Homo sapiens: one gene and its partners. The protein of the gene in region 1 purifies or fractionates together with the protein of each later gene. This does not show direct contact. Each region holds a gene or a part of one and is shown in the gene's direction. Other genes may lie near its edges. The genes, in order: PITX2, AHCYL2 and AHCYL1.

Region 1 (10,649 bases):
TCTTGCTTTGGGGGTCCTGAAAGGAACTCATAAAATGGTCTTCACCCTCAGGAGGAGGACGGACTGACCCTCCTCTGTCACTGGCTTAAAAAGTTTCAGGGCGGCGGCTCTGGGTTCCGTGCTGAAATCGGACTGCACTGCAGCCCCTTTGGACCTGACGCCTGGCTTTGCGTCCCGACAAGGGGCGGGTACTTCCCCCGGCCTCCCCCAGGAACGCATTAATTGTTAAATAGCTTTGGCCCAGTGGATGGGCTGAAAGTGTTCGACCCAAGTCGCTGGTGTGCACAGACTTCCTCCCTCTGGGAGGTGGGCTCCATGGCCCGTTGTGGCACCCCCAGCCGCGACACACACCTTCACACGCGGCAGCAGCTCGGTCCCAACCTTCTTCGAAGGACCTGGGTTAACCCTGGCGGCCTTGGCGGCCGCAGACCCCTCTCCGCCGCCCCGCCCCCGCGCCTCTCATTCAATCAGCGAATGTTTGCGGAGCATATACTACGTGGACTCCTAATGTACCCCCTGAAAGCAAATAATACAGTTTTCCTCGCCGTCATGAAGGGATTTTAATCCTAACATGGACACCAGCGAGATCAGCCCAGACCGTCTCTAGCAAAACGCAAAATGGTGGTGCGTGGGGTGGTGACCAAGGTCCTGAGCCTTGTCAGAAAGAAGGGGATGTGTAGAGAAAGGTGGAGAACTCTAGCTGTGGCTAGCGCGGAAGGGACAGGTGCTTGCCGAAGGGGGCATGAGGCTTGAGGAAAAAGCAACGAAATAGGGGTAAGGAGAGTTTTCCATTTTCTTTCCTCCGCCCGACCTCCGCCATCCCATTCTCCCCTCCCCTCCCCCACCCCCCGCGCCAATCAAATCTGCAGCTCACTTGAAAGGTGCCCCGCCGCGTTGTGGTTTTTCACCCCCAGGGGAAATTGTACCAGTTGTCCGAAAGTAGTCAGTCCCTGCGGATCCCTGCCCGCAAAAGTGGTCTTCACAGGTCGCGTTCCTCGCTGCTGACTCGGTACACAAAGTTTCTTAAGGCTGGTTCGGCTGTTATTCCTCACCGCCCGCTGCTAATATATGCAGCAGTTGTTAGAGCGGCTCGGGGGAAAAGGAAATGTATAACGAAAGCTTATTCGTGAGCAGGAATATACTAATGGAACAATCTGATGTCTTCTTAATCCTATGTAAAAAGCTTTGTCGTCTTCCTAATATTGACTGAATGGGTAATTAATGGCTCTTCATCTAGGCGAATACCCTGTAATCCAAGATAGGCAAAAGACAACAAGCCCAAGGTAGAAGACAAAAGGCCCAACTGCAGCGGCGTTTGCCCGCCTCCTACCCCCCAGGGTCTCTGACTAGGAAAGTTTTCTCTCAGAGGAGAAAAAGGCAGGAGTGGGAGAATATATACCTATCATTTCGGGGCTAGACTTCACCGCAGCACCTGACCACCCAGCTCAGTTTTCTGTTACTCTGTCTTTCCACCTCCAGTCCTTCTCCCTGCATTTTTTTTTCTTCTTAACTCCTCTAGGATGACCTCCTACCACCACCGCCATTATGGTCCTAATAACCTTTCCCCCTAAACCCCACATCTTTCACTTCAGCAACCAATGAGGCTGTTTTCTGATCCAGGAGGAGATTCTTTTCTTTTAGAACCCAATGCGTAGAGTCTTTGAGAACTAAAGTAGTTGGTAGGGGAGGAAGAAATTAATAGAAAGGGAGAGAGCATACAGAATTGTGTGTGTATGTTAAAGAGCGACCAGGAATGACAGAGTCAACTTCTTTGTGAGGATCTGACGGGAAGAGTGTCCAAGACTCTACCAGCATGTTTTTAACAGGCTGACATTTTAATTTAAACCTTTAGAAGTAATATATTACTTGGGTTACTACAATGAGGTGGGTTCCTTTTTTTTTGTCAGCTGACAGCTTTTAAAATATTATTTCGCTAGGGAAATAAAAGCTTCATCTCAGATTATAGGTGGGTATTTTTGGATTTAGGTGATTTATGGTCACCATGACAACTAATGCTGAATGTTAGCTACCAGCATGTCTGGGAGAGAGAAAACAGAAAGAAGGGAGAGCAAAAGAAATAGAAAAGGGAGATGGACATAAGCTGGAGAGGGAAGAAAAGAGAAAAAGAGGAAGACAGATGAGTGTTTAATCCAACTGTTGTTTAAAAAAGTGGCGGGGGGGTGGGACTTCATTTAGCCCCTTGCCACTTCCTTCTTTCCTGACCTGGATATCTATGCTCAATTTCATATTCCACCCTTCCTTCCCCTTCTCCAAACACATGTGCTATACCATTCTCCTTATTTTACTTAGTTCGGCAAGTAGTTGCTTTCTGGAGACTCAGTGACACCTAGGAAAACTGTGGCAGTAACATGCAAATGTGAGGAAGCATTAACAGCATGTTCGTTGAGTGATTTTAGCAAATGCCCCCTCCTCTAATCTCTTTCTCTTCTCTTCCCCAGGCCACTGTGAGGTGGTAACTCCCACTGCCATCTGAACACTGTTCCCCCAGGTAGTTACCCCAAATCTCAAATGGTTGAGCAGCTAGAGCTGTGGGTTGGAAAAATGGGTACCATTTGCAGGGACCCAGAGAGGGTGGCTGTTGCTCAATATATCTACAGACTTCCAATTCAGAAAATAATCTTCCCCTTTTGACAAGCCAGAGCTTTTTAAATTCCATTTAGGAAATGGGGAAAAGGACAGCTACAGTGAAGCTTTTAATTTCTGGGTTATTTGGTTCCATAGCTATGAGGGGTGGTGGGTAGTGGACTGTTTTCAGCTTGGTTTGTATGCAGAGAAAAGCCAGATATTGGAGGGGGTGGGGCACTTCTCGGGCAGGATGCAAGGTCTCCATCTGACCTCTGCGCCTTACCAGGAGCTCACACACTCACGCCCATCACGTGGCTCCAAGCTGAGTCCAGGCGGGCCTCGTCCTTGAGCTAGCTTGGGCAGGGCAGGACTCCCACCCGTCTAAGGCCTAACAGCTCAGGGAGATGTCTAATTAAGCCATCTTCTGGGTGAACTCTGAAGACAGACTCTTTCCAAAAGTCAGAGATCACTTGGTTGAGTCCCAGGCCAGATTGATACGGAGAGTTTGGCGGCACAGCCCAACCGCTCACTGCCATGGCCAGAGGGACTTTGCACAACTAACACTGAAGAGTGTGAAATTAAATAAGACTTTAAGACTGGTAATCGGTGGCAAATACCAGCACAAAACACGGCTGACCCCATGTCACACATTTCCCTCCTCTAGGGTCTTTCTTTGAAAGAATAAGCAAGAAACCCCAATCGAGACAACCCCTGATGTCTCCCAGACTCAAAACCTCACGCCGGCACTGGGCTTTCCTTCTTTGCCCCACGTGAGCCATGCAGCACCTCTAGTTTCCCTACCAGGATCCCACCAATGTTCTCCGTATTGGAAATTTCTGTGTTAGAGGCTGAACTCATAGTAATTTCTAAAACCAATTAAGAAGAACTTAGCCAGAGGTCACAGTAATGCTGGAATCACAAAATGCATAAGATTTATTTTCTTCTGGCCCCTTTCTCATCCATGCTGCCTATGCCTGTGCACCCACAAGTCTTATGTACATTAAATCTCCAAAATCAACCACCACCATGCCACAGAGTTTTCACTGGACAGTGTTTCTTAGTTCCCACCACATACCTCCTTTTCCCCATGCAGACTTATCATGTTGGTGTCCTGCCACACAGGGGGCCTGAGAAGAATGTCACCCAATCGCCGCTGCTGTGAGTGTGTAAAGTGATTAGGAGATTAGGAGAATGTTGAAACTCCTGCTGGAAAAATGCAAAGAAAATCCTCACTTTGAGTCAGTTGTTTACAGAGCCAGTGTGTGTGTGCGTGTGTGTGTCTGTAATATAAAATGGATGTGAATATATATATACAAATAGATATGGTTTTGCTTTTACTTTAATCTGAATTATCTAGATAATTGTCTTTATTCACCACTTGACTTCAATGGGTCCACACAAATTAGGACACCTTATCTTTTTAGGCATCTAGGCTGCTGCTGATCCCCAGTGCTTCCAACATCTCGCACACGTTGGCACTATGAGGAGCAGTCACGTGCCCTTGGGTTTTTCAACCACTTTGGAGGCTGATTGAGGTCCTTCATACATGTATATTTGTCGTGATGAAAGTTCCATCGGTAGAGTGGAGCCACCAGAGCTTTTATCAAAATTCTGTGGGTTTATGAGAGATGGGTTTAGAAATCTATATGGCTCTGTGGGGCTTCTCGGCTTTCTAAAATAAGGCATTAACACCCAAGCTTCCAAAAATATTTGCAGCTCTGGGGTTTGAATCTTGAAAAACAAGGAGTGAGGGGCTGTGTATACTAACTACAGTGGAGATTTTTTTCATTCTTTAATGTGATGGAGTCCCTTCATGAAATGAAGCTTTAAGGGGCATGGTATTGTGGGGACCACAGCTATTCTGAGGTTTAAAAGAAGAAACTGGAATATGATTAGTAAACACATTCAGCAGAAAAGAGCTGGATTCTTATTGACTTAGTTATAGGTCATCGGCTGGCAGTGCAATGGGAGGAAATATTTACTTTACACATATACTTTATGATCTTGGGGGAATTAGAGGAAATTCAATAAGAAAACGGCTAGAAACATTTAAAACCCTTATTTAAAAGACTTAAGCAAATTAGAGTCTTATCAGATTAAAAACCACTACAAATGTAAGAGCATTGTCTTCAGTGAAACGCTGTGGGGTCTGAGAAGGAGATTCTCCGCCAAATCTCCGGGATAAAATGCGTCATTTAAGCACCAGATAATGAGCAGAATGTAAATTAATTTAACCTTCTTTACCAACAGGCTGCTAGTGTAATGTGTATAATTTAGTGATAAGATTGCAGGACCTAATATAGCTGGATGTATGAGCCTCAGCTAATGCAGACCTGTCACATGAGGATGTGTTTTACTCTGAGCAGGTGTCTGTATGTGTGGAATGGGGTAAAGTGGAATAAAAGGTTAAAAGCAGAAATGCTGATTTAAAGCTTACTATGAAGAAATTCCTCCCTTGCAGCTAAATTATTCTTAAAGTGGGATGATACTGGTGAAGAAAGACTGAAAAACAATTCTCATGTGCGTCTTTGGACTGCAAGTTTAAAATGGGGAGGAGTTGCAGATAGGGTTTGGGGGTGGTCAGGGCAAAGGAGAGACACATAAGTTGCAAATATATTTGTAGTCTGCTTCATCCACTTTGTTCCACATCGAATAAGTTTCCCAATCTTGTGAACAAGGACAAGGAGGGAGTGTTTTAAAGATACTTCATGCTGGCATTGCAAATCATTGACTGTAATGTCAAACAAATACACATTCAGAGATGATAACACTAACTCCATAGTAAAACAATCGCCCATGCAGAAACCCAGAGGAGATTAGTTTGTCCTCTCCAGCTGACCTATGCTGGGGGACAAAAGGACTTTCAAAAATTATTTTGAATATGTTTGGATTTCTTTCTTTAATTTCTTTGGAAATTAAATTTGCTTGGAAACAGTGCTATAAAGAGTTGATGTCTCCAAAGGTGATTTTTTTTGTTTTATATAAATAAGGTTTTGCTTTTGCTAGTTGAGCGCAGTTCTAGGCTTTTCGCCCTTAGCTCACACACACCCCTTCTGCCTGCTTGGACTTTAATGGCTCAAGACAGCCTTGAGCTCACTGGGAAAAGAAAATGACTGTTAAAAATTATCCTTGAAATTGGTTATTTGGCAACATTCTTAATTGTATGGAAATTCATTAAGGCATATTTCATATATAATTAGCTCAAGGTTGTTGATTCTACAGGCTTTATGGATTTAAATCTGATTGATAATAAAGTAAACAAGAGAGTCGAATTTAAAGCGTGGCTCTCTCGGGTTAGGACGAGCTTAATACAGTGTACAAGGAATTTGAAAGATCTAGGATATGTGTCTTAATCAACGTTAAGTAGAATGGATAAGCTTTCAGCATTTTGAAAACGCTGGGTTAGGGTTTCTCTTCTATTGTGTGTTTTCTGTCTGGGGACTAATAAGCATCACAGAGAACGTGATCTGAGGCGACTTTTTATTCTTGTATAAATCCAGAGTGAACCACCAAACAGTTGTTCGTTTAAAGTCAAGGTAATTTTCTTTTGACGGGTCCATTTGCTTCTCGATTTCTAATTTATTAGCCTGCCTTTTCAGGGCTCTGTCTTCTTTGCAATTAAAGCTTCTTCAGATTAGCGCAGCATTCACTTGACAGGCTGTTTGGAAAATTTAAGATCGGAGAGGTGATTTGTTGCTGTTTTTCAAATTTTCTAGTTTTAAGTAACGTGTCTCCTTTTTATATGGGGTGGGGGATTGGAAATGGATGTAGTGAGACACAAAGAGTGGGTGTCTTGTTGATCCTTGTACCTTTCTCTTCTTGACCATTCCACTCTCTTCTCCCAAGCCTTCGACTCCTAGCCTCATCTCTTCACCTTTGGGTTCGTACTAAAAGCCGGATCGCCTTGGGCTGGGCAGGAGCTGAATTCCCGGGAGCTTGCCTGTGTAGACCCAGTGCGCACGGCGAGGCAGTAGCCCGGCCCCGCACTGCTGATAGGTGCAGGCAGGACAGTCCCTCCACCGCGGCTCGGGGCGTCCTGATTGGTGCGGAGCCACGTCAGTCGCACCCGGAGAAGGGTCTGGGAGGAGGCGGAGGCGGAGAGGGCTGGGGAGGGCCGCGGCGGAGTGACGTCTCGGCACCAGGAAGCCCGCCTCTGGTTTTAAGATGTTAGGCCAACAGGGAAGCGCGGAGCCGCAGATCTGGTCCGTCGCTCGCCTGGGTGCCTGGAGCTGAGCTGCGGCAAGGCCCGGCTCCTGTTCGACCGCCCGAGGGGTGTGCGTGTGCGCGTTGCGGAGGGTGCGCTCAGAGGGCCGCGTCGTGGCTGCAGCGGCTGCTGCCGCCGCAGGGGATCTAATATCACCTACCTGTCCCTGTCACTCTTGACACTTCTCTGTCAGGGCTGCCGCGTGGGGGGGGGGCGGGCAGAGCGCGGTCGGCGTTAGCTTTCCTTATTGGAGGGGTTCTTGGGGGAGGGAGGGAGAGAAGAAGGGGGTCTTTGCCCACTCTTGTTTCGCTTTGGAGCTTGGAAGCCTGCTCCCTAAAGACGCTCTGAGTGGTGCCCTTCTGCCCACATCCCATGTCTTCGTTTGCCCGCTGACTTTCCGTCTCCGGACTTTTTCGCTTGAGCCTTCCGGAGGAGACGGGGGCAGCTTGGCTTGAGAACTCGGCGGGGGTTGCGTCCCCTGGCTCTCCCCGCAGCGGGGAAACTCCGCGCCTAGAGCGCGACCCGGAGCGGGCAGCGGCGGCTACGGGGGCTCGGCGGGGCAGTAGCCAAGGACTAGTAGAGCGTCGCGCTCCCTCGTCCATGAACTGCATGAAAGGCCCGCTTCACTTGGAGCACCGAGCAGCGGGGACCAAGCTGTCGGCCGTCTCCTCATCTTCCTGTCACCATCCCCAGCCGTTAGCCATGGCTTCGGTTCTGGCTCCCGGTCAGCCCCGGTCGCTGGACTCCTCCAAGCACAGGCTGGAGGTGCACACCATCTCCGACACCTCCAGCCCGGAGGCCGCAGGTAAGGCGCCGCGCCGCCCTGCAGACATTCCCGCTCAGCTGCTCTGCGCCACCCGCTCCCTCTCGCCCCAAGGAAGTCAGCCCCTCCGGGGGGAGGCGTGGTGGGAGTGGTCGTTCGCCTGGCTCCCCGCAGAACTTCCGGGAGCCGGAATTTTGACTACCCCGCATCCCTTTAGTTCTCCCTCGACCGGCCCGGCTCCTGGGGCGCTAAGGGCGCGAGCAATTCTGCCGCCCTCTCTATTCGTACCCTGGCCTCCCTTCTGTTTCCTGGGTCACAAAAATCCCAGCATCTTGATTCGAGGACCTTCAGAGGCCGCCGACCTCTGTCCCTGTTTTCCTCTCGGCTTTCAGCTCCCGAGGAGCTCCACTCGTTAGGAAATTGCCTGAAACCACTCAGAAATGCCCTTCGCGAAGAGGCATTTTTTTTTTTTTTTTGGGAAAGGGCCGGCGAACTTCGGTGCCCAACCGAATCCCCACATCTTTTCCTAGCCTTCCCAAACCGCATGGAAATCTGAGCTTTCTGCGAGGGGGAGGGGGGTCTGTAAACCACGCGCGTGTGCGCGTCCCAGGAGATTTGGTGTGTCTGCGCAGAGGTGTATAAATATACTTGAAAGCACAGGCTATAAAAGTGAATGTGCCGCTGCAGTGAGATAAACATGTAAATAAAACGTGCGGCGCTGGGGGAGGGGAGGAAATGGGGCGCGGACACCCACACTTGCGCCTGCACACCCCACAGGCGCAGCGCTCCTCGCGGCCCGGAGCCGCCGCGCGCACCCTCCTCCGGCGCCAGGCAGCCCAGCTCTTCCACGGCTTCTGCCGCCGGTCCAGTTGGCGTCCGCGTTGCAGGTGGGCATGCTGACGGGAAAGTGTGTGTGTTTCGTTTTCAGAGAAAGATAAAAGCCAGCAGGGGAAGAATGAGGACGTGGGCGCCGAGGACCCGTCTAAGAAGAAGCGGCAAAGGCGGCAGCGGACTCACTTTACCAGCCAGCAGCTCCAGGAGCTGGAGGCCACTTTCCAGAGGAACCGCTACCCGGACATGTCCACACGCGAAGAAATCGCTGTGTGGACCAACCTTACGGAAGCCCGAGTCCGGGTAGGAGCCAGCACGGAGTCTGGGAGGGATGGGGGGAGGATGTTGTGGAGGTACAGGCCAAGTAGACCAGGAGAGAATGTGGAAGGCAGCGCCGCCTGGGAGGGCGCCGGTGGGGCGCAGCTTTGCAAAGGCAGAAGGCCTCGCGGCGGCCTGGTTGCGAGATTACAGTTCCCTCTCCGAGGCCGACAGGACTGCCGCCCTGGCTCAGGCTCCCAGAGCGGCACCGGCTCACTGCCCCGCCATCCCGCGATCTCACGAGCTGGGCTGCATGGGCAATCCCCTGCACAGGACATTGTGTTCCTGGCTTGCAGTTGCCAGAGCAGAGCTAATAAAATCCCTACCAGGCCAAGAGCCGCGAACAGGCTCCAACCTGTGAGCCTTTAACAAGGAAAACCCGCCAGAGACACGGAAGAGTTGGCCCTCCCTGGGAAACCTTTGTCCCGGCCCTGGCCCAGCTTTTTCCCTCCTGGGCTCGCGCTTCTTACACCTTCTTTACGGTTGTTTCGGCCATTCAGGTCTCTCCCACACACCCTATTTCCTAGTTTTGTGATCTCCGGGAGCAAAGTTTTAATACACAACTACTAGTCCTCTTAGAAGGAGAAAGAAAAAAAGAAGAAAGACTTTTCTGCTTGGTTTATTTATCTTCTCTCAGGAGTTGAACTCTGGAAATTGAAACTCACACCCCCTCTTCTAAATTATAATCATAGTTTTGTAAAAAGGGCTTACCTTAACTTTGTAGCAAATCTGTACTTTATGGATTGGCAAAAATGAGCTCAAATAAATAACCCAATAGCAACGTCCTGGTTTATGCTGGTCGGTGGAAGATTCCAAATTTGTTAGGATTCTGGAAGCAGAAAACAGAATCAAGCAAATCAAGCGGCATCCAGAGGCTTTGCTGTTAAAAAAAAAAAATTAAGTGCTCTGGGTAGAAAAAATAAAGCCCCCGGTTAGAGCAGAGCAAACAAAAAGAAGAAAACAACGATAAAAAGAATAAAGACCAAAATGCTCTCCCAAATCAGAGGGAATGAAGACACTCTCTGGGTGGCATTTGTGCAAGGCATGAGGCTATGCTGGTGGATAAAAGGCCGGGAAGAAGTTGAAAATGGTTTTAGTTTAACTGTCCAGAGCCAGAGCTGGGTCCTGGGCGGCGTGGTTTTGAGCAAGGTCAGTCTTTCATTAGCTCTCTTGCACATCAAGGGAACGGGCCTCTCACGTACTCTTCTCGCCTGAGCAAAGTTTAGATGGCCTAGGGTAGAAATGGCAAGTAATTAAAGACAGAGTCTATGGGTTTTCTGGGATCCTTCGAAAACGCCCTCCCACCCCGCCCGCTATTCCGCAGCTCCACCCTAGTGCTTTGTAGCCGCGGCGCTGGGCTCTCCTTGCAGCTGCCTCTCCTTCCAGGGCGGCTGCTTGTCGAGCCAAGTGGGAGTGAGGCGTGCTTTTTATAGCAGTCGGGTGCAAAGAGGAAGGGGGATAAAAAGGAAATCAAGAATGAAAGGAAAAAGAGAAAAAGCGGATTACACGGCTGGGCCCGGCGGAGATGTGTAATGTGAAACATCACTGGTGTCAGCTCGGATATCTCAGGCCAGGCCTCTCTCCAATACACAAAAGCCGCCGTCTGGGGCGACAGGGAGGCCCGATGTGGATTGGGATCGGGGTTGCGGCTGGGCCACCGGACACGGGTGGAAGCCGGCCGGCCTGGGTGGCCGCCTGCAAAGCCAAACGACCCGGCTGGGCCTGGCGCGCGGACAGGCCTGTGGTGGGCTTAGGGTAAAGAAGAGGCAGAGCGAAAGAAGGGGGAATCTCCAAAACTACCCTTTCCGGGTTCCCGGAGTTTAATATGCCAAGCTCCTGGAGTTAACGAGCTGACGAAGAGGTGGTCTTTTGCTCTTTATTTGGTTGTTTTGCTAGGCGAGAAAGAGTGTTGGCGGCCTAGTCCCTGTTAAGGGAGCACGTACCAGG
Region 2 (10,458 bases), on another chromosome or scaffold:
TGATTCTCCTGCCTTAGCCTCCCAAGTAGCTGGGATTACAGGCATGTACCACCACACCTGGCTAATTTTGTATTTTTAGTAGAGATAGGGTTTCTCCATGTTGGTCAGGCTGGTCTCAAACTCCCGACCTCAGGTGATCCACCTGCCTTGGCTTCCCAAAGTGCTGGGATTACAGGCGTGAGCCACTGAGCCCAGCCAGTTGTTGCCATTTTAATTGGAAAATATAAGCTCAGTGAAGCAAAATGACTTGCTTGCTACCCCGCAGCTAGTGAGTGACAGACACTAGGTCCAGGCTCTTCCTGACTAGTGTCCAGGCTCTTTCCACGCTTAATCCCGCCTTTGATTTTTCTCTCTATCCAGGTTTCCTGGTTTATGTTCCCTCTGGCCATCCCACATCCTCTTACACCTGCTCTTCTTGTTCTTCCCGGCCGTTACTGCTTCCCTTAGCATTGTTACAGCTATTTTTTAGCCTTTATCAACAACAGTATTTAAAATAATGAAAGTTATCAGTGCTGTTTAAGGATCTTTTCTGAAACAAAGGGGAGTGTTACAATGTTCTTCTTTTCATCTCCAAAGACAGTTGACTACTAGTTTTCCTCCCTCCTTCTATCCTTTCTTTAGTGGGATTACTTATGTAAAGGATGGGAGATGGGGTGAAAGGGGAGTTCAATCTGGGCCTTAAAAGCTGAGAAATAGGCCAGGCACTGTGGTTCACGTCTGTAATCCCAGCATTTTGGGAGGCTGAGGCGAGAGAATCACTTGAGTCCAGGAGTTTGAGACCAGGCTGGCCAACATGGCGAAACTGTGTCTCTACAAAAAATAAATTAGCCAGACGTGGCGGTGCATGCCTATAGTCCCAGCTACTCGGGAGGCTGAGGTAGGAGGACTGCTTGAGCCCGCGAGGGTCAAGGCTGGCCGAGAATGCACCACTGCACTCCAGCCTGGGCGCTGGGCTACAGCAAGCACCACCCTGTCTCCAAAAAAACAGCTGAGAAATGTGACATTTGTGCAGAGACTCTGTGGCCACTAGGGGGCAATGTGAGCCCACCTTTGTGAATGCAGATGTCCAGCACCATGGACACTCCCACAACCAAGAAATCTTCCAGTAGTATCCCTACGGGAGCATCAATCTCAGGACTGAACAACAGTAACCACCCTTCTACCAAAAGCTCCTGAGTGAGATCCCCAAAGAAACCCCTCAGGATCCAAGGGGAGCCTGGTTTGTGGGACTCCCAGTTTGGGGGACTCCCTGCTATGCTGTTGCCCTGAAAACACAGCTCCCCATGCGTGCCCCTCATCACAGGCTCTGCCCTCAGCTGCCTCATTGGGCCTCTTACCATTCTTTCAAATTCAGCTGGCCTTGCCTCTGTTTGTTCCAGCTTCCTTAAAGCAGTCTGTCCACTGCCCATCTTTGTTCCTCTGTGCTTTTTTTTTTTTTTTTTTTTTTTGAGACAGGGTGTCACTCTGTTGCCCATGCTGGAGTGTTGTTCCTCTGTCTTCTTTTTTTTTTTTTTTTTTTTTTTTGAGACAGGGTCTCACTCTGTTGCCCAGGCTGGAGTGCAGTGATGCAATCTCGGCTCACTGCAGCCTCAATTTCCTGGGTCAGGCGATGTTCCTGCCTCAGCCTCCCAAGCTGCTGGGACTACAGGTGCACATCACCATGCCAGCCTAATTTTATTTTTTGTAGAGATGGGGTCTCACTATGTTGTCCAGGCTGGTCTCCAACTTGGTCTCGGCCCAGGTGATCTTCCTGCCTTGGCCTCCCAAGGTGCTGAAATTGCAGGCATCAGCCACCGTGTTCAGCCTCTGCCTGCTTTTTTATTTTTATTTTTAGAGACAGAATCTTGCTCTGTTGCCCAGGTTGGAGGGCAGTGGTGCAATCATAGCCCACTACAGCCTCAAACTCCTGGGCTCAAAGGATCCTCCGGCCTCAGCCTCCCAAGTAGCTACAACTACAGGCATGTACCATCATGCCAGACAAATGTTATTAAAAACAAATTTTTTTTAGAGACAGGGTCTGGTCATGTTGCCTATGCTGGTCTTGAACTCCTGGCATCAAAGTGATCTTTTGCCTTGGGCTCCCAAAGTGTGGGGATTATAGGCATGAGCCACTATGCCCAGCCTACTTTTGTTTTTAAGAAATTGAAACGATATAGAAAAGTACAAAGAACAACCTAATAAACACTCATATTCCCACCACTCAGAATTATCAACTTTTTATCATTTTATCATATTTGCTTCAGATCTTTTTTTTTTTTTAAAGAAAAGTATAACAGATTTAGCTAAAGTACCCTTTGACCAATACCCCACCCCACTCTCCCCGCTGCTCAAAAGGAAAGCAAGCCTGGGCACAGTGGCTAGCACCTGTAATCACAGCACTTTGAGAGGTTGAGGTGGGTGAATCACGAGCTCAGGAGTTCAAGACCAGCCTGGTTAGCATGGTGAAACCCCATCTCTACTCAAAATAAAAAAAAAATCAGCTGGATGTGGTAATGCGTGCCTGTAATCCCAGCTACTCGGGAGGCTGAGGGAGGAGAATCGCTTGAGCCTGGGAGGCGGAGGTTGCAGTGAGCCGAGATCCTGCCATTGCACTCCAGCCTGGGCAACTGTGTGAGACTCCATCTAAAAAAAAACAAAAAACAAAAAACCACAAAAAAACAGGCTGGGCACGGTGGCTCATGCCTGTAACTCTAGCACTTTGGGAGGCCAAGGCAGGCAGATGGCCTGAGCTCAGAAGTTTGAGACCAGCCTGGGTAACATGGTAAAACCCCGTCTCTACTAAAATATGAAAAATTAGCTCGGCATGGTGGTGGGTGCCTTTAGTCCCAGCTACTCGGGAGGCTGAGGCAGGAGAATTGCTTGAACCTGGGAGGCGGAGGTTGCAGTGAGCCGAGATTGCGCCACTGCACGCCAGCCTAGGCAACAAGAGCGAGACTCCGTCTCCAAAAAAAAAAAAACAACTAGAAGTTCGAGACCAGCCTGGGCAACATAGCAAGAGCCCTACTCTACCAAAAACATTTTTTTTTAATTAGCCAGGTGTAGTGGTGCAAACCTGTAGTTCCAGTTACTTGGGAGGCTGAGGTGGGAGGATTGCTTGAGCCCAGGAGGCAGAGGTTGCAGTTAGCTATGATTATGCCACTGCACTCTGGCCTGGGCAGCAAGAGTGAGACTCTGTCTCGAAACAAAAAACCAAAGTTTTCTTCATATGTCTGGTGACTTTGGTTGTCTGTTCATACTTAAGAATGTGACACTAAATTGTTCACGGAAGCTCTGTGAACATGAGTATGGTCTTCAGGGCGGGTGATCTGGCTGGCTTATTTCCTTTGGAAACTCTCAATGTTAGTATCTTTGTTTTCTCTCTTGGATTGGTCAGATACCTCAGAGAAATTCTTCTTTTTTTTTTTTTTTTTTTTTGAGACACAGTCTTGCTCTGTTGCCCAGGCTGGAGTGCCGTGGCGCAATCTCAGCTCACTGCAGTCTCTGCCTCCCAAGTTCAAGCAATTCTCCTGCCTCAGCCTCCCGAGTTGCTGGGACTACAGGCGTGTGCCACCACACCCAGCTAATTTGTGTATTTTAGTAGAGACGGGATTTCACCATGTTAGTCAGGCTGGTCTCAAACTCCTGACCTCGTGATTTGCCCGCCTTGGCCTCCCAAGTGCTGGGATTTCAGGTGTGAGCCACCGTGCCTGGCCAAGAAATTCTTCTTTATTGGCCGGGCGCGGTGGCTCAGGCTTGTAATCCCAGCAGTTTGGGAGGCCAAGGCGGGCAGATCACGAGGTCAGGAGATTGAGACCATCCTGGCTAACATGGTGAAACCCCGTCTCTACTAAAAATACAAAAAATTATCCGGGTGTGGTGACACGTGCCTGTAGTCCCAGCTACTCGGGAGGCTGAGGCAGGAGAATTGCTTGAACCCAGGAGGCAGAGGTTGCAGTGAGCCGAGATCATGCCACTGCACTCTAGTCTGGGCGATGGCACGAGACTCCATCTCAAAAAAAAAAAAAGAAAAAGAAAAAAAGAAATTCTTTTTTATACCAATGTCCTGCATGGACGTTACATTCCTGCTTGCCAGCGTTCTGGAAGCTGAATGAGCCGGGTGAAGGAAGAAGACCTGTAGTCCAAATATTTCATTAAATAGTTCATAAACTGGTGCTTAATTACCCTGTTTCTAGTATGTAATTTGATCTTCAACTGTACCTGGTGTCCCTCAGCTACAAGGATGGCAGAAGCAGCAGGTATGTAGGGATGGAGTTGACAACAGGTTGAAGAATGTGTCCTGATGGTTGGCCCCAATCAGTGGTGGTGACTGGAATAAAACAGGGTATCAGTTTCATTCCAGTGCTCTAACTCCTTATATTTTATAACCACATCACACTGAAGAATTAATTCATCCTCTCAGTAATCAATTCTAGTGGCAGGTAGGCAGCTGCTGCCTATGAGCTCCAACACATGCCAGGTGGCTGTACCGTAGCTCCCTTGAGCATTAGGGGGAAGAATGAAATCAGTTACAGAGCTGCTAATCTCTGCTCCGACAGCTGGAGGATGAAGCTCTGGGCTGGTTTCTTTTTAACAGGAAGGAAATTCTGAAAGCCGGAATGTGAAGAAAAAACTTAAGAATCTCTTGTGTCTTGTGAGCTCTGTGGAAATGGCAGTGCTCAGATGCCTTCCGACATGTACTGTGAGGCACAAATTTGGAGATCAGGAAATGAGAGCCTCCATTCAAGGCAGGACAACCACACAGAGTGAACAGATTTCCAAAATAGTAGGACAGGAAAGAAGATCGAGGCAGGTGATTTCTCTCCCTTCTCCTTCTTTTTTTTTGAGACAGAGTCTTGCTCTGTTGCCCAGGCTGGAGTGTAGTGGTGCAATCTCGGCTCACTGCAACCTCCACCTCCTGCGTTCAAAGGATTCTCCTGCCTCAGCCTCCTGAGTAGCTGGAACTACAGGCAGAAGCCACCACGCCTGGCTAATTTTTGTATTTTTATTAGAGATGGGGTTTCACCACGTTGGCCAGGCTGGTCTCGAACTGCTGACCTCAAGTGATCCACCCGCCTCGGCCTCCCAAAGTGTTGGGATTACAGGTGTGAGCCACCATGCCTGGCCTCCTTCCTTCTCCTTGCCAGGCAAAACACAGTGACACCAAAGACTAGATGTCTAAAGAGTAGCTGTCCAGTGGCTGCCTGGGTTGTTAGGGCTGTAAGTCTCTGAAACAGCTGTAAACTGTATGAACCCCTTTGCTCCTGTTTCTCTGAGCATAGAGAGGAACCCCCCCCATAATCTGTCGCGAGTCAACTGCATTTTGTTTTTTTAAAGTATTCTTTTTTTTTTTTTTTTTTTTACGAGACGGAGTCTTGCTCCGTCGCCCAGGCTGGAGTGCAGTGGGGCGATCTCTGCTCACTGCAAGCTCTGCCTCCTGGGTTCACGCCATTCTCCTGCCTCAGCCTCCCGAGTAGCTGGGACTACAGGCGCCCGCCACCACGCCCGGCTTATTTTTGTATTTTTAGTAGAGACGGGGTTTCACCGTGTTAGTCAGGATGGTCTCGATCTCCTCACCTCGTGATCTGCCTGCCTCGGCCTCCCAAAGTGCTGGGATTACAGGCTTTTTAAAGTATTCTTTACATAAAATCTTATGGCATGTGCAATTTTGTCTCTTGCTTCTTAGCTTAATGTTTTTATCATAAGCATTTATTCTGAAAGCCAGAATGCCTTGATCTTCTTTCCTGTGCTATTACGATTTTGGAAATCTTCACTTCGTGAAGTTGTCCTGCCTTGGAGTCTCTCATTTCCTGATCGCCAAATTTGTGCCTCACACTATGTATCGGAAGGCGTCTGAGCACTGCCATTTCCACAGAGCTCACAAGTGTACCAGACACAAGAGTTTCTTAGCTTCCTCTTCACATTTTGGCTTTCAGAGTAAAGAATGAAAAAGGGAAAACCTTGTTGTTAAAAAGTATTGGCAAACAATTTTCTTTCTTTCTTCCTTTTTTTCTGGGACGGCATCTCACTCCGTTGTCCAGGCTGGAGTGCCGTGGCATGATCTTGGCTCACTGCAGCCTCTGCCTCCCAGGTTCAAGCGATCCTCCTGCCTCAGCCTCCCAAGTAGCTGGGATTTCAGGTGCCCGCCACCACGCCTGGCTAATTTTTGTATTTTTAGTAGAGATGGGGTTTCACCATGTTGGCCAGGCTGGTCTTGAAGTCCTGATCTCAAGTGATCTGCCGGCCTTGGCCTCCCAAAGTGCTGGGATTACAGACGTCAACCACTATGCCCAGCTGGCAAACGATTTTCAAAGGCTGTAACAATTGCTCTATTTGTTGGACATTAGTTTTAGACAGTTTTTTGTTATTAAAAAGGACGCTGCGGTGCATGTCTTTTTGCTTACATCCTCTAAATGTAAAATTTAAAAATAATACAGAAAAGTACAAAGTAAAAATCACCTTAAATCCCATCACTTAGGAAATTAACTACTCATATTCACTATTCATATCCCTCTATGCTGATATATGTATCTGAATTTCAGATGATTGCCCTATTAGAATTATAGGTGAAAAGATTTGGCCTCGTTTAAGGCAACGTGTAATTCCTCAGCCTTGAATTTTGATCTAGTGATACCTAACTTCTTTGAGGAATGATCTTAGCTTCCAAACCCAGAATGTGACAGAAAGCGCCACAGCAAGCAAGGTCCTACTTTATCCCTTCTAAAAACAAAGCCACTGAAGTTTGGAAGGGTGTTGAGTTCTCAATATCACAAAGAAAAATAAAGCCACTTCCAGCCTGGAGCCGCCGCTTCTCCTTTAAATACTCGCTCACGTGATCGCAGACGGGCACGCGCGGAGGAACTTCACGCTGTCAGGACAACGAGCCATTCCTCTACCACTTCCCCTCCCCTAAGGCTTCTTGGCGTTCCCTCCCCGGAAGTCACAACTCCTCTGGAGACTTTCTCTTCCTCATCCCCTCCGTCGAGTCACCTATCCTCACTCCTTTCTGTTAGCTGCCGGCCCTAGCGCTCCCTCTCCTCGGCTGAATCTCACTTAGTGGAGGAAAGGCTGAAAGGACTACAACTCCCAGGGGACGCTGCGGGCCCCGCCCATGGGGCGCGCAGTGTAGGTCGGGGCCTGAGGTCCCACGGTCTTCTCGCCGCGTGCGGCCGGGAGCAAACGCACTACAGGTTCCGTGGCGCCTCGCGCGAGGCCAGACCGGGACGGGGCGGGGCGGGGCTGGAGGGGCCGGGACTGGCGGGCGGAGAAAGGGGGTGGGAGAGGAGGCGATGGAGGGGAGGAGTGGGGACATGGGGGAGGGAAGAGGAAGGGAGGTGGGAGGCGGGGCCGACCAAGAGCAGGAGCTGGAGTCTGAGCCGGTGGTTGCAGCGGAGGCGGTGATGTCGGTGCAGGTTGTGTCAGCCGCGGCTGCCGCCAAGGTGCCTGAGGTGGAGCTGAAGGACCTGAGCCCCTCCGAGGCGGAGTCGCAACTAGGACTGAGCACGGCCGCCGTGGGCGCCATGGCCCCCCCGGCGGGCGGTGGAGACCCTGAGGCTCCAGCTCCCGCCGCGGAGCGGCCCCCGGTCCCCGGCCCGGGCTCGGGGCCCGCCGCCGCTCTCAGCCCCGCCGCCGGGAAGGTGCCTCAGGCGTCGGCCATGAAGCGGAGCGACCCACATCACCAGCACCAGCGGCACCGCGACGGCGGCGAGGCCCTGGTCAGCCCCGACGGCACCGTCACCGAGGCGCCGCGCACAGTCAAGAAGGTACTGGGGCCGGGCTGCCTCTCTAGGAGAGGAAGGGAGGGGAGGGGAACTGCAGATCCTCTCGGCACGGCGGCACCACCCTCCACGCCCTCCTTTCTGATCGCAGGACCGGAGATACCCCTTGTCCCCTTAAACCCACTCTCTCAGAGATGCCCCCCAGCCGGCCCCTCGTGCTGGGAGCGGAGACTCCAGGAGGCACGGCCGTACTTCGCTCTGAATAACATGGAGGTAGCGCTCTCCCCTACTACTTGGAATAGGCAGCGGGAGGAGAGACACCTAATAGTACGTCCCGCGGCCCCAACACGCTCCCGGGTGTGATTTTCCAGCCTATCGGGGAAGAGACCTCGATAGTATAGAAAAACCTTACCGCTCACGGGAGTTCACACAGCAATAAGGATGAAAAGATCTTTAATACTTGGAGAACGAGTAAGGTGTAGTCACCTTGCATAGAAATCGTCAGAGTTGTCTGGTTTCCATACAGTTGATGACTTTCTGCCTTTCTGTGGCCAACCGTGGCCATACAGCAACACGATGCTGTGCCCTTCATTTCCAGCGACTGCGATATTCTCTCTTCCCTGAATATGTAAAAGGGTAATGGAGAGATTCTCCTCACTCTTTCGTGTTAAGAGCTTTGTCCTCCCTGCTGGGTATAGTTGGTCACCAGGATTATTAGGCTGTGTATGAAGAGAATGAATGTCTTATTGATTGCTTTATTATAATCTGAAAGTGATAGGAAGAAATGCTGCTACTTTTGGGAAAGACGATCTTTGTGGGGTTTTCGGTCTTAGGCGTCAGCTTCTTTCAGACAGTTTTGAGGAGGTCTCAGAATACCAAGAAGTAACTGCCTAGGTGGATGATAGCCCTGTATTACCCGTACATTGTCTATCCATAGTTGTCTGTCTCTCTCAAAGCTTGTCTTTCTTTCTCTCTTAAAGCTGAATCAGCACAGAAAAACAGGGCAAGTATTGGAAAAGACAGAAGTGTGGATCATATAAAAAGGGCTTACAGCTTCAATTTCGTAGACACAGTATGGGCACAGGGATTAATGTTTTTTTTAAATTGTTGTGAATGGTTTTTAATTGCTTTATCAGAACAGCAACAAAGAGACGGGAAGTGTGCATTGGTTTTACTGTGTGGGACCAGCTGAATTGGAACCTTGGATCCACCATAACTTTTTGTTGTCATAGCGTCATGATTAAGGTATAGCGGATAATCCTTTCATCCTAACGATACAAATTTAGGTGATAAGTCAGAGGCAAGACTGAAGGAATTTCTGTAATGCTTTAGACAATGTCTTTGTCGTTTGTAGTATGAAACTCCTCTGGGAAGAATTAGAGTAGAAAGAGGCAGCATCCTGCAGAAATGGGTTTAAAGAAAAAAAGTAAAGTAAAAAAGAGAGGCAGCAGCAGCACCAGTGCTGGGAGTACCTAGATCTGAGTCTGGAAATCCAAAGCATACTTCTGACTTGTTGAGATACTTTGTATCGTTAAGTCATTTTCTTGTGATAAAGACTGTTTTTGTCTAAACTTTGTAATTTGGTTAGATTTCTTTAGGCTAAAAGTGTTTAACAAATTGCTTTTAGAGCATGAAGTTTACAGTCAGGCAGACCTGGATTTGAAGCCTAGTACCCCCATTACTACCTTTTGGGTAATTTCCAAATTACACAAATCAGTTTCCTCTTCTATAAAATGAAAGTACTAATTATGATTGAGGATTAGAAATATTTGTAAAAGGTTTAGCATTGAGCTTGGCACATAAAGTCTTAAATGATATTCTTACTAATGCTTTTATTATTATGAATAATTGATTTTATTTTATTCCTCCCATCATGGCTTAAGTGCAAGCCCCCATGACCACCTCTGAAAGTTACACACAGTTCAATATATTCTATATAAAGAAATTAAAAAATCATGGCTCACGTCTGTAATCCCAGCACTTTGGGAAACCACGGCTGGTGGATTGCTCGAGTCCAGGAGTTTGAGAACAGTCCGGGCAACATGGTGAAAACCTCTCTCTCCAAAAAAAAAAAAAAAAAAAAGAGCCGGGCATGGTGGTGTGTGCCTATAGTCCCAGCTACTCAGGAGGCCGGGGTGGGAGGATCACCTGAGCCCAGGAAGTTGAGGCTGCAATGAGCACTCTAGCCTGGGTGCTGGAGTGAGACCTTGTCTCAAAAAAAAAAAAAAAAAAAAAAAAGTTAAAAAATCAAAGACCAGCATACTGGAGTCTGTTTTTCTTAATTCTAGATGTGCTTCTTGACCACTTTCCTTGTCGTTGAACCATCTTCCTGTTTTTTCAGCACCAAATGTATGTTCCATGATTGTAGATATACTCAGCAGCCTCAAGGCTATTGTAAAGCAGGGCTGAGCTTGCCTTACAATGTTAATTGCACCAAAAAAACAACTTCTCTGCTGAAAGTTAAGCAGGTGAAGCTCTGGGCAAGGATACAGCTGGATGACGAAATTCAGGGCATTGCTGAGCTGCTTTTCAGGTGCCCAATCTTTAACCTTCTTGATATTGAATTGGCTAAATCAAAATAAGTGCCCAAGACTGCCCTTTCCCTAAGTTGAAAGTCATCTCACCAAGGAACTGCAGTGTGACATTTTGATTTGTTGAGCCTTTGTTGATTCTTAGATTGTCTATGTAAATAACCACTTTGACCTTGACTCCTTACTGTTTTTCTTATAGCATATGAAGGAACTGAGAATACTAGTATTGAAAT
Region 3 (10,866 bases), on another chromosome or scaffold:
ATTCATCTCTGCATCCGCCACGGGACCCAGCTCAGGATCCTGCAAGCTATGGAGCAGCCAAATGTTTGTGGAACTAAAATTGGGACCTGGGCCTAGGCTTGGATGAAGTTTCGGGCTATTTCAGGCCCTGGAATGGGTGGGGCGATGAAGGGAATGTTGGGGTTGGGAGATAAAAGACCCGAGCGGGAATGAGGCTTGGGCTTCACTGACTGGAACAGCCTCTCCATCCCCACCCCTTGATGTCTCCTCATCTAGCCCGAACAGAAACAGGGAAACACTGTGTACTTGCGACTCTCTTCCATCAGTCTCTTGAGCCCTTCCAGGCCCTCACATCACCCACTCCTTCCCTGAACCCCTATAAAGAGGTCAAAGGGCCAAGCGGGTCTGCAGGAAATGGCTGAAGGGCCTTTGTGGAGAGGCCAAGGTCCAAGCTCCTGGTTCTGGCATGAGATCCATCGTTGCCGTTGGTCTAAAATATTGTGTTGACCCTCCGTCAGGACTCTGTGGAAGTGTGGAAGTGGCATGAGCTCATGTTGGAGGCTGAAGAGCTCTGTCCTCACTGCTGCAGAATGGGACAAATGCTGAGGGTGTGGAGGACAAGGCTTAACTCTTTCCCCGGGGAAGAGGCCAGGCTTGCGTTGTGCATGTGGAGCCTTCAACCCTTAAAAGGCTGTCCAGGCAGAGCTCCTGGAATCGTGGAGGAGAAGGGAGGTTTTCAAGACCAGGGTTGAGAGGCATGAGGAGCAGCCTTGGGAATCCAGGTTGGTTGCAGGGAGGGCTTGAGAGGGTGAAATGGTTAATGGTTTGTTGAAAAACAGGGAGAGTCCCTCCTCCAGGGGCCCAGCTGGCTGCAAAGCCAGGAGCAGAGACTCCAAGGGTGATGCAATGGGGCCCGCCCTGCACACCAGAGAGGGTGAGGAAGGCAGGCTCCCACCCCGCAGCAGCCTCCGCACCACCAGCAGCCGACCACTCTCCTCTGGCTCCAGCAAACCAGCCACAGGCCGGGCCCTTCAGGGCAAAGGGGCAAGACCCTGAGCACCTGAGCTTTGGGAGATGGCAGCTTCTGTCTGTTCCACTCCATCAGCCCCAGAGCCTTTCCAGTCAAGACAAATCCTCTACTAGCCCCCAGCAGGCATCCTGAAGGAGTACCCACCAGGATATCAAACCATCCTGGCCACCTGTGTCTCTGCGATTCCAGGACTATTTCCAGTCCTAGAGGCAGGTTGCAGGTTATGGGTAGAGAGGCAGGCCTGGGAGAGGCAAAGACAGGCAGTGTCCTCCCTTATCCCAGAAGCTGACACTTACATCTCACCAGCCCACTCACCATTGCCCTGGGGGAGCACATCTGCCAGGGAAGCAGTATCCCAGAAGCTTCTAAAAGACTTGGGGCTACTTCAAGGGTGGGTCAGCATCTCTGAACTCGGGAGAGAGACTGCTCTTCCTTCCCTAGCATGGGGCTAGACACAGCCTCAGAAGCAGGGAGAGGAAGCATGCCACACACTCTGGAAGACCGCTCAGGGTGGGGCACATGGAGACAGCAAGGAGAGGGTGTGCCCTCTCAGACAGTACTGGGAACCTTGATTTTCTGACAAAGCTCTGCTATGGACTCTAAGCCCCATGAGGACAGGAACTGTGTCTGTCTTGTTTACTGTGGGATCCCTGGCGCTCAGCACAGCTCCCGAGACAAAGCTGATGCTCAGTAAATAACTGACTGGGCAGAGGCCAAAGTCCAAGGCCAGTTTCACAATTTCTACTTTTTTGGTAAACTCTTCACCATCCCCACCTCCATCCTCCCCGCTCCCATATACACACTTAAGAGCAGGAAAAAACATACAAAGTAGCACAAACAGTCATCAGAACAGATTTCTTGAACATTGTTTACAATTGGTGGATGCCTTCTCAGTATGAACTTTAATGTGTGGCAGCTTTGGGAACTGAAGTAAGATACATCAGGATCTCTGGTCCAACCTAGAAAAAAAGCATGTGAGGAAGTTCCAAGGGGCTGCTGGTCACACAGCCAGACCCCGGGGCCAGGTTGGGCCAGGAAAGCAGCAATTTCTCATGGCTGGGGCAGTGTCAGCCCTCCCTTTTGAGGAAACACATCCACATGTCAACAAGTACTCAAAACCAGCAATGACAATCCTTTCCTGCAGCAGACGGGTTTCTGCTTATTCCTGTCATTCCGGGAAGCGGAGCGAAGAGAGAATTCCAAATTCTCAACAATAGCTCCTTTGCCCTCCATGGTTAGCCTGGACCCACATCTTAGTACCTTACATTTGCACAATATTTGCAACTTGTTCAAAGCTTTTGCATATTTATGATCTTACTGGATTAGGTCATTACAAGCCCCAGATGGAGAGCTATCAACCTGTCTTGCATGAGGAAGAGGAGGTCAAAAAAGGTCCAGGATGCCAGTGGCCAAGTTAGTAGCAGAGTGAAGATTTGAGCCCACATCTCTGCCCAGTTTTCCTGCTTCCTCACACCATGCAGCCTCGCCATGAGTCAGCTATCACGAGTTCCAGACACAGGACCTCAGATCCTCTAGGGCCAAAAGGTGCCTCCTTATCCTGGTCCTTGTTTACAGTCATTATAACTGCCCCCACTACTTACATTTTTGCTCCCTTTCTCTGGCAGGAGCTGGTGCTGTGACCCATCTTCGCCTGTTTTGCTTGAAAGCCATCCCCACACCCACTCCGAAACCACCTCCCTCCATTCCATTATATTGCACTAGTTGGAAACAATTCAAATACCGAACAATAGGAAAACAGTTAAGCAAACTCATAAAGCAATATGACAGAAAGCTTGGAAAACATGGACAATAATAACAAGTATGTCAATGCTCTCCGTTCGGGTCATGTGTTTTTGAAATATTGTAATTTGATCAAAGCAGAATACAAAAGGACATGAACCTACCAATCACAGGTATGTAAAAATGAGTTTCTGCAAATTGCTAAGAACTAGGAGTGAACTTAACAAGATGAAAAGAAATTTTTAAAAAATCTTCATGGATTTTTCTTTCCTATAATGTTCAAAATGATAATAAAGAGTAAGTGATCCTAATAAATATGACAATAATAAGCAGAGGGGGAGACAGAGAAGGAGGAATGTTTTCCCACTGGAACTGGAGAAGGGGAAGGAGAAAAGGCTGAGGGTAGGGAGGGAGGGAGCTCGGTGGGAAGTAGGAGCCAGGAAGCCTGAGGACCAGCACCCACAGCCACAGAGGTGCAACCGGGAGCCCACCCTCTGGGGGTCCCTAAGGGCCAGCGAGGTAGGTGACCAATCTGAAGTGGTGCTCCAGGGCACCTTTCACAATAATTACAATGTCAGTGGTGCCTCCTAGAGCTGTGCAAGGTAGCAGTTCTGGGACAGAAAGAAGCCTGGAGCTGGAGGGTTTGCCCATGCTGGAGAGCTAGAGACAGAGCCACTGCCCTCTTCACCTTCTTCCGAACTTCCATTGTCACCCAAGATCTCTGCAGTTTTTCTGCACTTTCATTCCAGAGGGCTAACATAACACCTGGCCGACAGGAGGTGAAAGGCCTTCAGGAGGAGCACAGCCTCCCCCTGGTGGGGAGCCTGACTGGCAGGGAGCGGGCAGTTCCAAAAGGTGCCAACCTGGGCTCCCCTGAGACTCAGGGACAGTGCCCTCCACAGACATATCAAACTCAACATGTCCCAAGCTGACTCCTCTCAGCAGCCCCCCTCCACCCCTCTAGCCACACTTGCTTCTCCTCCTGTGCTCCCCAGCATGGCAGACATCACCACCACCCACCCAGGGCTTAACACGCCCTGCAGGATCTGGCCCTGGCTTCAGCGCTCACTTCACCCTGCTTTGCACCCTGTGCCCCACCCACATGGGGATATTTACAGTTCCCGTAATATGCCAAGCTGTTTCCATCACCATGCCTATTCTCAGGCTGTTTCTTCAGCCTGGAGAATCTTCCCTCCCTTGCCCAGCTGCTTATCTGTCAAGACTCAGCTCTGGCAGCATCTCCCTCTGTGTCATCCCTTTGCCCTCCACTGCACCCCACCCCCATCACCTGTCCCCACGTAGAGATCAGCACCTCAGCTTATTTATCTCTGTAGTCCCGACTGACATCTAGCCCTGCTGCTGGCACTTCTTCGGCACTCAATATATATTTTATAAATAAAAGAACAAATGACTGAATGTAGAACATCAATTTGGGGGTGGACAAACAGTGAATCTGATTAACAAGACCAAGCCCACGTGTGGTAGCCCAATGCCACTACATTTCTGGTGACAGCATCTCCCAATTCACCACTGCCCTTAGGCCACTCCTTTCTAGCAAGGGTCTTCGCTCCAGGCCCTTGGAGACTTCCCACCACCACACACAGCAGGTGCATCTGTCTTTGGGTCCCTGTTCTTCTCCAATTGCCCCGTGGGGGGTCTCTCACCTGTGTGTGGATGCGCTGTTCAGGGCAGTGAGCTTGCCAGTAGAGGTGCTGAGTCAGGTGGGTGGGTAGGCTGAAGACAAGTCATCTCTTGGCATTCATGAGAAGCAATCGCCTTAGCTGTGCCATGTGAGGCTATCTTAGGATGGGTTTTGGGGGTGGGAGACAGGATGCAATGATTCTCACGGATGTTATGTTGTCACACTCCCTGGCTGGGTGAGCTCTTTGCTCTCCAGCACACACGTGATGGAAGGGATGGCAGCCACCCATGCCCCCTGCAGTGGCTGGTTTCCAAGAATGTCCCGGGCCCCTGGCCTCACTTGAACCACATAGGCCTAATGCTTTCCACCAGGGTAGGGGGTGCTGCCCTTCCCCTTTCCAGTCTGAGTCCCCGAACTCTCCTACATCAGCTCATCAACCTCCCCTCAGGCCAGCCACTCAGGTGAGTGGAGTCTGACCTGCTGATCTCCTTCTTAGCCCAGACTGCTAAGGTACTGCATGCTCTAGGCCTGGCCCTGTCTGTCATCCTCTGTAGCAGCAGCAATAGCAGACAACACTGTGAGCCTGGTGCTAGGGCAGACCTGGTCCAGGAGGAGTAAAGACTGAACTTCAATCTCCAGGAAGCTCACAGTCTGGATGCTTAAATGCACAGCAGAACTGGGGGACTGAGAGACAACATGTTTAGACAAAGTGAGTTCTAAAAATCAAATCCAAAAGACAGATACACTGATGCTTCTCTTTAAAAAAAAAAAAAAAAAAAAAAAAAAGATCTTCTTAAGTCACACATTTTTCTACTATAGGGACTTGAGATTTCATCCCTGGTTCCAATGGGTTCTGCCTCGAGTCTTTGGGCAGGCATCTCTGATCCCTGGGCTCTGCCAACAGTTTGGGCAAACCCACAAGGATGAAAGCCACTGTGAGCCTTATGTTCAGAGAGTCCTTAGTGCACCAGGTGTGGTTCCTGACCCCTAGCTGAAAGATGTCAGTCTGGCACCCTCATGGATGAACCTGGTATTCTGGTCTCCATCTCTGTTCCCGTTCTGCTACAGTGATGCCCCTGACAGGGAAGTGTGAGTGCTCAAAAAAGTGAGCAGATGAAAGAATACAAACAGTTCAAGACCAAGGTCTGCAGATGTGCAAAGGGTGCATTCTTCCAGGCACTTCTACAGCCCTTTTCAAACAGACAGTCTCATGAGGCTAGGTGGCTGGAACACAGGATTCCCTGACTAAGACTTTTAGGGCCCTAGAGGTGAATATTTCACACTCTCCCCAGCCCTGAACACAAATCAGTGGGGAAAATGCCATTTCAAACCAAAACTTCCTTCTTGAAAGGGTATGCCCTGTTAAAAACCTGGGAGGTTTCTGGATGTTAAAAGGTGGTCCTGGCCAGGCGCGGTGGCTCACGCCTGTAATCCCAGCACTTTGGGAGGCCGAGGCAGGTGGATCACGAGGTCAGGATCCGAGACCAGCCTGGCCAAGATGGTGAAACCCCGTCTCTACTAAAAATACAAAAATTAGCCGGGCACGGTGGCGCACGCCTATAGTCCCAGCTACTCACTCAGGAGGCTGAGGCAGGAGAATCACTTGAACCCGGCAGGCGGAGGTTGCAGTGAGCTGAGAGCACTCCAGCTTGGGCAACAGAGCGAGACGTCATCTCAAAAAAAAAAAAAAGGTGGTCCTGGGGAGGAATTTAGGGAAAGGGCACTGGGAAGACTGGAATTGCTCAGCACAGCAGAGGAGAATCTGGCTTCCCAGAGTCTATCAAGGAAGGAAGGATGAGGTGCAGAGATGGGAAGGGAGGAACAGGAGGAAGCTAGATTAGATGGCAATGGGCTAGGGAGCGTGGTGGGATCTTGTGGCCATTGAGAAATCCCCGGGTGGTAAGACAGCCAAAATAACTTTTCAGAACATTTCAGAAATGTGTTCTTAAATTGTTTGCTGTGTGATGTAATCTCTCCCCTGTGACCCACAAACCTTTATTAAAAGTTTTACTACATGTTACAGCCTTATTTTGTAGTTGTTTAGCATGGGGTGGGGGTTGAAAGGAGAAGCGGCTGAATTGACCCCAGGAGCTACAGAAACAGTCACAAGACCAGAATAGTGAATAAAATGCCAGACAAGGCAAAAAAACTAGAGCCAGAGGTGACCATGAAAATCCAAGTCCTCCCAGTAATGGACTTTCCACAGGACATGGTAATTGGAGCCAATGTCATTTGAATCTCAAAGGACAAGCTACCTCAGCTGACATTAGGATACAAGCAGGTTTTGCCTCTCCAGCTGAACTAAGCCTTGCAAAACATAAAATGCGTCACATGTCCTTTTGCCAGCAGGGCCTCAGCACAGGCACTGCACATAGTAGGCCCAGTAAAAGGGTGTGAGCAGTCCATGAATGTCCTGGATGCCCACTGAGAGCTGGAAGGGTCTAATGCTTTGGTGGAGCAAGGACCGGAAGGCCATTCTGGCTGGGGACTTCTCCATCAGCTCTCCTGGTCTCCACCCTCATACCCATCAGCCCTATCCCAATGAGGGTTTTGTAAACAGGCAAGGCCCAGTCGGAGATGGTGGTGGAGGAAGTCACAAAGCGTTGTGCAGAAACCAGACTACTCTGAGTCAGTTCTGCCCCCTATGAAGTCAAAAAGACAGGCACGGCCCCTTGGGAAGGAGCTTTAATCCAAAGGGCCTGGGGCTGGGCCAGTGAGTGAGTGGGCTGTCTCGAGCCCCGGACATTTCCTAGGAATCGCTGTAGGATGTGTCGTGTGGGGCTCTGGTCTTTGCTCCCAAACACCCCTTTCATGCGCCTCTGAGGCCTTGCCAGGAACCCCGCAGCCCAAAGACCCTCCGTTCCGCAGCATCGTTGCATGAACCTCGCGCTGCTCCCAGGGCTGATGGTGCCACCTGGTGGCACAAAGGGTCCTGCTCACCCTGGGAACTTCGCTCTCGAGCGGGAGAGGAACGGCTTCTGTGGCCCAGCCCAGCGTGGTGACGTCACGACAGAGTGCCCTTTCTCCCCGCCTCTTCCCCCTCCCGGGAGCTGCCAGTACTTGACGTGGCGTCACCGCCCTCTACCCTCGCTTTGCGTGCGTGTTTGCGTACAGCGGAGGTGGCGGCGCGGGCAGGTCGGAGCTCGGAGCTGCTGTTCTGGTTCTCTTGTGGCCGCCGTCGCTGTCCGGCTGCCTTGGGCTGCCGAACAGACAAGGCGTGGGCCACAGCACCTCAGAAGCCGACGCAGCTCGACGCAGGGGCCGGCAGGAGGGTGGGCGATCGCGTGTCGGAGGGCGCCGCGCGGGCAGGCGGGCGGGCGCCAGAGGGGGAAAGAGGCGGGGGCGGCGGGTCAGCCGCTGGCCGGGCCGGCCGGGGAATGTCGATGCCTGACGCGATGCCGCTGCCCGGGGTCGGGGAGGAGCTGAAGCAGGCCAAGGAGATCGAGGACGCCGAGAAGTACTCCTTCATGGCCACCGTCACCAAGGCGCCCAAGAAGGTGCGGGGGCTCTGGGTGGCGGCGGGGGCTCGGGCTCCGGCCTCGCGGAAGGGACGCGAGCAAGCCCGGGCTCTGGCTAGTTTGGGACTTCTGGGGGTGACTGGGGACGGCGGAGGTGATGTAGGGGGTGGCGGCTGTGCGGCCCCAGGCCTCTCCCGGGCTGAAAGGCCGCCTCTGACCTCGCTTTCCTTTGTCCCTCGGCCCAAGTCCTCCGGGATCGTTTTGAAACCCGACAGGGCCAGGCCTTAAATTTGCGACTGACTTTTCCTGGATGAAGGGCCTCGAAGACGAGAGTGGGAGGGGGTGAACCAACTCAGCTGACCCTTGTGACCAGTCCGGGGGCATGGGGTGTACAGAAAATCTCCCTTCAGGTGAGTGGGTAAATCTGGCAGAACTTCCATCAAATCTTTGGGAGCAGTGGCCGCTTTATCCAACAACTGCGTGATAGCTGGGAGGCAAGAGAAAAGAATGCGTGAAGCTAGCTCTGATATACAGGTGAAAGCGATGAGGGTAACATGAAACTGAAAATCTATGATTTTCACTTTCTACAGCATTCCAATTACTTCGAAATATGTAAGAAATTGACATTTGGAGGTTGGTGACAGCAGACACTGTCATGGATACAGGTGGATCCTAGAGTCATGTGAATAGATCACTTAGGCATCCCTGGAGAAAGGAGCTTGGGTGGGTTGGAGTAGTGGGTGGTAAGGGAAGATTGCTCACTCTTGACTGTACTTTTGAGGCAGAACAAGTTTGATCTATTGTGCTGTAGGTTGACTCAAAGGACACCCTTCGAATTCTCTCATAAATGGCAACCTTTGGAGATTTTAGTCTGACTAGCTCTCCGAGTGGTGGAATTGGGATCCTTATTGCTTTCTCATCATTTACTGCCAACCACATCTTGATTTTCCATACACCTGGCACCCAGTTAGCAGTAGACCAGAGAACCTTTACAAAGAGGTGACCTTCCTGAAGCCAGTGAGAACCCAGATAAATGTCTCCCTTCTTTATAAAGACAGAGTCTTACAAAGCTGTCTCTGCCTGCATCCAGTGTTTAATGGGATGCAGGGCTGAACAAAGCAAGGGCTGCAGGAATAGTTAAGTCCTTGAGGCTTCAACTAGTTAAGCTGTCTTAAGTGGGAGAGATGGCTCTTTTTTTTTTTTTTAAGTGAATTAACCTGCCACTCCAGAAATCAAATGCAAGATCAAAAAAGACGAGTCGCCATTGTGTGCTTTCGCTGTTTTCTCACAAAATTAAGAATTTAATTCCTTTAAAAGATTGTGGAAGATTCCTTGACTCTGAGGCATCTGATTAACTTTAGTGCTGAGAGTTCAGTTGACTGCTTTGTTGGGACAATGACCCTTTGCAATCTGCACTATTCTTTGGAGAAACAGTCACAGTCCTTATAAGCAGAATGATTGAGGGTGGGACCTTAGATGAGTTAGAGGAAAGAATGGGAAAGCCCTAATACCTGAATTTCCCAGACTCTGTCTTCTTTGCTGTTACTTGCCTTTATGTTAGTAAATCTGTATTCTTGAAAGTACCACTGTTGATAAGACAAAGTCTATATCGTAGATTGTAAAAACTCATTAAGGCAGGGATTCTTGTTCACCTTTGTATCCAGTGTGCCTAGCTTTGTACCCAGCATACAGTAGGTACTCAAATATTAATTGCTCACCTGGCTAACTAGTAACTGAGATGTCCATGTGGCCACCTACCATGAATAACTATCCCTTTTCCTCTCTTCTTCCCAGGAGGAATATTACTAATGTGTATTATTGTCAGGCCAAGTGCTGATGATTTTAGACTTATATTGCATTAGCTAAAAGAAGCAGGCTCTGCCAGGAATGTGGGAAGACCCTGTTTTAAGTTTCCATTTACCAGTAAATGTGCCCCACCGTGTTTCTTATTAATCTTTCTCTTCTAAGTTTTATTCTTTAGCATTTACGTAGTACTTTGTAATAAAGTGTTTCATGATGACTAATTACCCTTTCCCTAGTGATGATAAAAGACATTTATTAAGTTAATGGATCAGTTGAGGACTAGTCAAGGTCACATAGCAAGTCCTAGGCAATCTGTTTTTCAGAACTGCTGAATTGAACATTAAGACTTAAGTCACTTTTGTACCTCTGCCATGTGTTGATAACGTGAAAGCATGGGAAAAGTAAGAGGGAAAAAAGTAACTTGGCATGGTACTTAATGGTGTGAGAAAAAGACCTCTTCAAATGGTGCAGTCCTTCACCTATGAGAATTCTACCCTGGCTCTAGACCAGTAATCCTTGGATTATTCTGAAGCCCTGAGGCCCCTCAGGAATTGAGGATGTTCTTGATGCCAGAGGATATAGGTTACTTCAGGGTGACCTTGATGGTCCTCAGTTAGATCAGATCCCAGTGTCACTTTCTGGTCAGCTTTTATTCATTTTGTTTGCTTTGTTTGAGACAGAGTCAGCTTTTATTCATTTTGTTTGCTTTGTTTGAGATAGAGTGGATGTCCATCAATTAAAAGCATAAATATCTAGATTCTTCAGCTATAATCATGACTTACTCAGTTTTGTATGCCAAGGTCTATCACACTGCTATGAACAAAATAGGACTTGTTGGTTTGATTGAAGATTTGAGATGTCTGGGTGTCGAGAAGTCAACTAAAGGGATATGACCTTGAGCAAATTAATTAGCTTTTGTACCTGCATCTCCTCATCTGCCAAATAAGTGCCTATTTTTTTTGGAACAGGTGGAGATAGGGGCATGTTGGGGAGTTAAGATAGCAGTGTAATTTTTTAAAAGTCTATTCGTATATTTATATTCTTTCTTCAATGGGCATTTGAAGTGGCTTATAACACAGAACATATATGTGATATAAAAGGAAGTAAAAACTATAGAAAGAATGAAAAAAATATTGTTAACCTCGAGGGCTAAGATAGTTGATGAGGTTGATCACATGCAACTTGAAACTTTTAGCAGCCAGAGGATGAAAAGA

The links.
Region 2: the proteins of PITX2 (region 1) and AHCYL2 purify together in Homo sapiens (affinity purification with mass spectrometry; 3 studies listed by BioGRID and IntAct, with this or other methods). This does not show direct contact.
Region 3: the proteins of PITX2 (region 1) and AHCYL1 purify together in Homo sapiens (affinity purification with mass spectrometry; 4 studies listed by BioGRID and IntAct, with this or other methods). This does not show direct contact.

Annotation. Positions count from the first base shown.
Region 1 is NC_000004.12:110,619,202-110,629,850, reverse strand, and holds the start of PITX2 (pituitary homeobox 2), read left to right. Parts: upstream 1-6,773; 5' UTR 6,774-7,390; coding exon 7,391-7,595; intron 7,596-8,217; exon of another isoform or gene 8,218-8,252; intron 8,253-8,481; coding exon 8,482-8,687; intron 8,688-10,649. UniProt on the Homo sapiens protein: May play a role in myoblast differentiation. When unphosphorylated, associates with an ELAVL1-containing complex, which stabilizes cyclin mRNA and ensuring cell proliferation.
Region 2 is NC_000007.14:129,217,701-129,228,158, forward strand, and holds the start of AHCYL2 (adenosylhomocysteinase 3), read left to right. Parts: upstream 1-7,329; 5' UTR 7,330-7,376; coding exon 7,377-7,739; intron 7,740-10,458. UniProt on the Homo sapiens protein: May regulate the electrogenic sodium/bicarbonate cotransporter SLC4A4 activity and Mg(2+)-sensitivity. On the contrary of its homolog AHCYL1, does not regulate ITPR1 sensitivity to inositol 1,4,5-trisphosphate.
Region 3 is NC_000001.11:109,977,285-109,988,150, forward strand, and holds the start of AHCYL1 (S-adenosylhomocysteine hydrolase-like protein 1), read left to right. Parts: upstream 1-7,480; 5' UTR 7,481-7,768; coding exon 7,769-7,888; exon of another isoform or gene 7,889-8,259; intron 8,260-10,866. UniProt on the Homo sapiens protein: Multifaceted cellular regulator which coordinates several essential cellular functions including regulation of epithelial HCO3(-) and fluid secretion, mRNA processing and DNA replication.